Linked DNA regions of Homo sapiens: region 2 is linked to region 1. The links come from fine-mapping of genetic effects on gene expression. A gene starts in region 1. The other region holds a variant in brackets. All regions are shown on one strand. Distances are between the middles of the regions. Region 1 holds the start of ADAMTSL3 (ADAMTS like 3). Region 2 overlaps ADAMTSL3 (ADAMTS like 3).

The links. PIP is the estimated chance that this variant, and not a neighbour inherited with it, causes the effect. A credible set is the group of variants that fine-mapping cannot tell apart.
Region 2: its variant is the best candidate, but not a certain one, in a credible set for the expression of ADAMTSL3 in skeletal muscle (GTEx, PIP 0.76).

The regions. Positions count from the first base shown.
Region 1 is chr15:83,652,888-83,655,672 of GRCh38, forward strand. ADAMTSL3 (ADAMTS like 3) reads left to right here and starts at 1,236. Exons shown (of 30, transcript NM_207517.3): 1 at 1,236-1,389.
Region 2 is chr15:83,764,348-83,767,132 of GRCh38, forward strand. The region is part of intron 3 of ADAMTSL3 (ADAMTS like 3); the gene reads left to right. Among named protein-coding and RNA genes, the nearest start is that of ADAMTSL3, 110 kb to the left of the region's middle. The variant T/C (reference allele first, on the strand shown) is at 1,122.

The DNA.
Region 1 (2,785 bases):
TAGGGGTTCCAGTCCTGGCTTCTCCACTCATGGTGGGCAAGTTATCCTCCCAGCCTCAGATTTATCCTAGGTGAAATGGGATAATGCTCGAACTACTGCTGCTGTGAAGATCAGATAGACACAAAGAGCTTGGTACTCGACAGACACCCAAGGAAATGGCGACTGTGGTAGGACTTAGGTGGGGGCATAATGCAGCCTTTAAGATCAATCTCCTGGCCCTTGGCTTATCCTGCTGGGACTAGGACAAGGACAGGGACAAACATTTCCTTTTACTTCTCCTCACCTCCAGAAGTACACAGGCAACTCACCCCAGTCTCTTGTCCGCGACACTCTTCCCCCCAACCCCAAATCCCAGGCCTGGACACGGCATGATTCTGGCACCTGTGGAGCTCTCAGTTCCCCAAGCCCGGCTCAGACAAGGAGGCGCCAGGTACCCAGTTAAGAGGCGCTCCTGCAAGATCCTCGTGGTCCCTGGCTGCCAAAGGTCCCAGGCCTCTGGGCAGTGAGCGCTCCACAGTCCCTTGTGTGGCGTCTATGCTGCGCGGAGGAGGCGCAGGCCAGGAGAGGGCCATTGGTCTCCACTATGGTCCTGCCTGGCCAGGAGTGCCTATGGCTCTTAGGCACGAGCCAGCGGTTCCGGGCAAACCTCTGTGTGGCTGCTGGGCCTGACTTTGCAGAGCTGGCGCCCGGGTCTGGGCGGGGTGGGTGGAGGCTATGGGAGGTGGGGCCGGGGGTGGGCTCGGGGGGAGCGACGGCATCCCTGCTCCGGCTCCGGCTGAGGCGGGGCGGCCAGGCTGGCTTGCGGCGCAGCGGCCGCCTTTCCCCAGTGCGCCTGCCGGCGGCGGCGGTGGCGGCGTCGGCAATCCCGGCTCTTGGCACAACGCCTGGCGGCCGGCCCAGGGCGAGGAGTGGCTTCCAGGAAGCGGGCGGAGGAGCGTTCCAGCCGAGTCCCGCCGTCGCCGCGGCCCCGCGCGCTCCGAGCGGCCCGGGCCTGGCCCCACACGGCGTCTCTTCGCGCCCCCGGCGCCTCCAGCTCAAGCCGAGGGCGCGGTGCCGGCGCGCAGGCTGACGGGCGCCTGGGCGCGCCGTGCACTTGCCGGGCGGTGCAGGTGGCGGCGCGCGCCCTCCGCCTCTGGGCCGGGGCCAGCGCAGCGCTCTGCGCGCCCGGAGGGGGCGGGAGAGGCGGGGCAGCCCCCGTCCCAGCCCCATTTAACTTCGCGGCGGCGGCGGCGACTGCGGCGCCGCGGGCTGGAGGCCGGCGTCGGGGAAGGTCCTGGTGCCGGATTCCGCACGAGGTGTTGACGGGCGGCTTCTGCCAACTTCTCCCCAGCGCGCGCCGAGCCCGCGCGGCCCCGGGGCTGCACGTCCCAGATACTTCTGCGGCGCAAGGTGGGTGCACCGAGCTCGGCGCAGGGCGGCCCCTCAGGGGTCGGGGGAAGGCGCTCCCCAGAGGGAGTAAGACTTGGAGCAGTGGCCTCTCTAAGCAAGTTGGGGGTCTCCAAGCAGAGTCGGGGCGTGCCACGCGGGCCCCAGGGGGCCTCAGGACTGGGGTGCTCCTCACTGCTGGGCACCTCGGGTCGGGCGCGCTTCGTGCCGTCCCGGAAGGTTCAGGGAGAGTCTTTCGGCGGCAGTTCGCGGGCTGAGGGGCGTTCTTGATTATGGGGGAACTCCACAGGGTTGGAGTTTTTCAGGATTGGGAGTTACTAAGCAGAAACCTCGCGGGTCCGAAGGTCCGGCCGGTTGACCACTGGGTAGCGAGCGCCCAGAACGCCGGGGGTTGAGGCGACGCGCGATCGTGGAAAGTGGGCGTGGGGGTGACCGGGACGCGGCGGAGGCACTGGAGGAGCGACTTCGAGGCAGCGGGTAGTCGGAGGAGTGTGCACTCGGAAGGCTGGTGCGAGCAGGCGAGGGTGGCGCAGAGTCCCAGGGCCCCGCACTGGCCGCCTCCCTTCAGCCAGGAGTCGCCGCCTCAGGTCGGAAACAGCAGCACATTTGCGGATCACATTAGACCAGGCCCTTAATGCCTTCTCCAGATGGAGAGAAGCCACCGACCCGCCCCCGGACACCAGCTCCGCCAAGGCGCCCGCGAGGCGAAGCGGGAGTCGAGTGTGACCTCGGCTTTTCCAGTCTCGACTCATACTGATTTCCCTGTAAATTGACAGGAAAAGTAAGGGAAAAAGTCCCCGCTTCCCTCCTGGTTTCAGCTGACCTCTGCTGGCTGGCCCTCACCTACTTTTAGGAGATTGTGTTAGGCTGGCTCAGGGGCTGTGTCCTCCAAACCTCCCTGAACTTAGCTCTCAGGCGTCTCTCTGGGTGTGGGTCCCGGACCTCGAGGGCGCACGGTGTCATCTAGCGAGGAAAGCCTTGAACTATCAGAAGATCTGCGTTTCAGCCCTAAAATGTCACTATCTTGCTGTGTGACCTTAGGCAGGTCCTTTCCCTCTCTGGGCGGCTTTGTTGTCTTAGACTCATTTTTGCCGCGAGCAGCAGAAGCTAGCCTAAACCTTGGCTCTGTGCTGGCTTCCTGAGTCAAATGCCAATAGCGACACCCTGCTGCTGACAGATAGGCTTGGGCAGGGATATCTCAGCTTCTGAAGAGCTGGAGGTATGAGATGCCCACTGGAGACAGGTCCAGCCCTCGCCTGACTTTGTTGTGGACCTTCTAAAGGGAGCCCAGTTAGCCTGCACCCTGCAGTAGGCAGCGGCAACCTGGGCCAACACAAACCTTTCCAAAATAGTATATGGGCTTCAGGGTCCCTCCATCTAATGGGTCGCTTAAGTCACG
Region 2 (2,785 bases), 110 kb after region 1:
AAGCTTCTCTTTGCCCTCCAGATCCACTCTCCACCCTTCCCTGCCCCGCGCTCCACCCAATGGGAAGCTGACCTGCATGGACAGCATCAATGGTCTCCCTTGCCCTCTGGCTTCTGGTTGGGTTTGGCAAATAACGAGCACTGCAGGGCGACTGGAGAGAGGGAGGACAGAAGTGTGTTTGTTTACTTCCCCAGCTCTCTCTTTGTGGGTTGCTGTGGGCTCTGATTCTCAACCGAAGGCCTTAGTTCCTCTCAGGCAGCCCTGTATACACAGCCCCTGCCTGCCCTTGCCCCATCTAGCGTGCAGGGCCAAGGCAGATAATGAGAATCGTCAAATCCACAGAATCTGGCTGGCACCAGCCCCAGGGTGCTGCACCAGGCTTCATGGTTTCCCTGTACCCTGTCCACTACCTTGGTAAATAGCGTGTTTTAAAAATGCTTCCCAAGCAGGATGGCAAGTGTGTTAGTGTCTGAAATAATGAAAAATGTTGTGTGCTCAGCATATGGGATATGTGGTGCTAGCAGGAGCCACCAGAGATGAAGCTGAACAAAGGGTAGGATAGGGCACAAACAGCCTAGAGGAGCAGAATGTGTGTCCTGAGGAATTAGTGAAGGGCTTTAAAGGTGGTAAAATAATTAGGAGCACATTGACTAGGAAAGTGTCAACCAAATCCTAGAGGCCATCAACTGTCAGGGTAATGAGTTTTGGAGCAGCAGAGGGTAGAATGGACTGAAGAAGAGAGAAGTAAAACACAGAGGTACGGAGCATTTCTCAACAGTACCTAGCACACAGCTTTAGATATATGGGTGTTGAATATATCCTGGTCAGACTGAATTGTTGAGTCTGTGTGACAGCTTGAGTGACATTTTTATGCCGTTCACCCAATTCATATTTTAAAATTTCTTTTGTTAAAGACCTTAAGGTAGTATTAACCTGAAAGAATGTATTTACTGTTAACTAAATCTGGGTCGTTTGAGATCCCCTTAAATAACCTTTGTGGTAACATTGGAATGAACATTTATTTGATGTCTGGGAAGTAATATCCCAGTGGAACTCATTTTATTTTGGGTTGTTTTTAATATGGAGCTGTTAATATAGCATTTCCAATAAGTGACCTTATA[T/C]GTGAAATCTGTGTTTAATTACTAATGTTTTAGCAAGACTAGTAGAACTGTACTATTCATTATAAGTCACAGATTTAAGAACTTGTCAGGAAAATATTTTATGATTTGATTTATGCCTGGGGATCCAAGAAAGGCAAGCAGTACTTGAGTCTTTATGAGATGGTGAACATACTTATTCCTACAATATTTTTGGCTTTTACCAACCCTATTATATAATGAGTAAACAATATCTTTTTTGGAATTTTTCATCCAAAATATTCCCTAGCTAGAGCTTTACTTAGGAAAATATGATTTCCTAAGAGATCCTTAAGCCTGATAATTTGAACCAAACAACACAAAGTGCATACTGCTTCTTTGGAAGTGTTTTCATAGCTTTCCTTTTAGTGTTTTCCTTTTCCCTTTAAAAAAAAAGAACTTTTATTGGGTGTTTTATTGTGCAAACTATACATGTTTGTCATATAACATTAGAAATTATAGATGATCATAAAAGAAGAAAGTAAAAAGTGTTTGTAATTCCATCACAATTAGAAAACAGAGGTGAGCACAAAATAAGGACTCACATGTAACCTATCATACGGAAGAAGGTGATAGGGATACATGAGGTGCTTCCAGCTTCCAGCAGGGTTGGTATGTTCAGTGGAAAGTCTATCCCAGCTCTCCTAACCAAGGTACAAATTGCTCCTGTTTCAGGGTCTCCTTCCCCTGGGCCCCTTGTGTCTGTTGCTCTTGACAACCAAAGGTTGCCATTGCCTCACCACAGCCCTTGTCCCTCTCACCTGATGCTCATTGATTTGTGAGCTACTTGAGGGCCAGATCCACATTGTATTCACAGGGCACTGAGCACAGAGCCTTGAACTTAGCAAGCTCTTGGTATAGTTTGTGTGAGAAAATGAACGAATGCATGTGAGTTCATGAACATCAGTCAGAAATGCGAATTCCTCATGAAAGAAGCTAGATAAAATGAAATACTTTTGAAAAGCAGAAGTGTAGCTCTACTTGCAATATAGAGGGGGAAAAAAGTAAAAGACTTCATAGAGATATCGAAAGAATGTTGTGGTCAAGCAGATCACAGCAGCAGATGTATTTGATCCAAGAGGCGAAATGCTAACTGTGAGTGATGATAGCTGGGCTGCTGTATTTGACTGGATTCCTGGTCGTGAAAGGAAGTGGAGCATCAGTGGGGAAAACACACAGATGTCCATAAAGAAAATGCAGGCTTTGTCTGGGGTAAGACAGAAAGCGCTTCTGCCTAGGCCCCTTCTTTAAGAAGAAAATAACTTTTATTGGATGTTTTATTGTAAAATTATACACGTTCATTGTATGACATTAGAAATTATAGATGATGGCTGGGCGTAGTGGTTCATGCCTGTAATCGCAGCACTTTGGGAGGCCTAGGCGGGCGGATCACCTGAGGTCAGGAGTTCAAGACCAGCATGGCCAACATGGTGAAACCCTGTCTCTACGAAAATACAAAAACAGGCCGGACGTGGTGGCGAGTGCCTGTAATCCCAGCTACTTGAGAGGCTGAGGTGGGAGAATCGCTTGAACCGGGGAGGCAGAGGTTGCAGTGAGCCAAGATTGTGCCACCGCACTCCAGCCTGGGTGACAGAGTAAGACTTCGTCTCAAAAAGAAAAATAAAAGAAATTATCGATGAGCCTTGGAC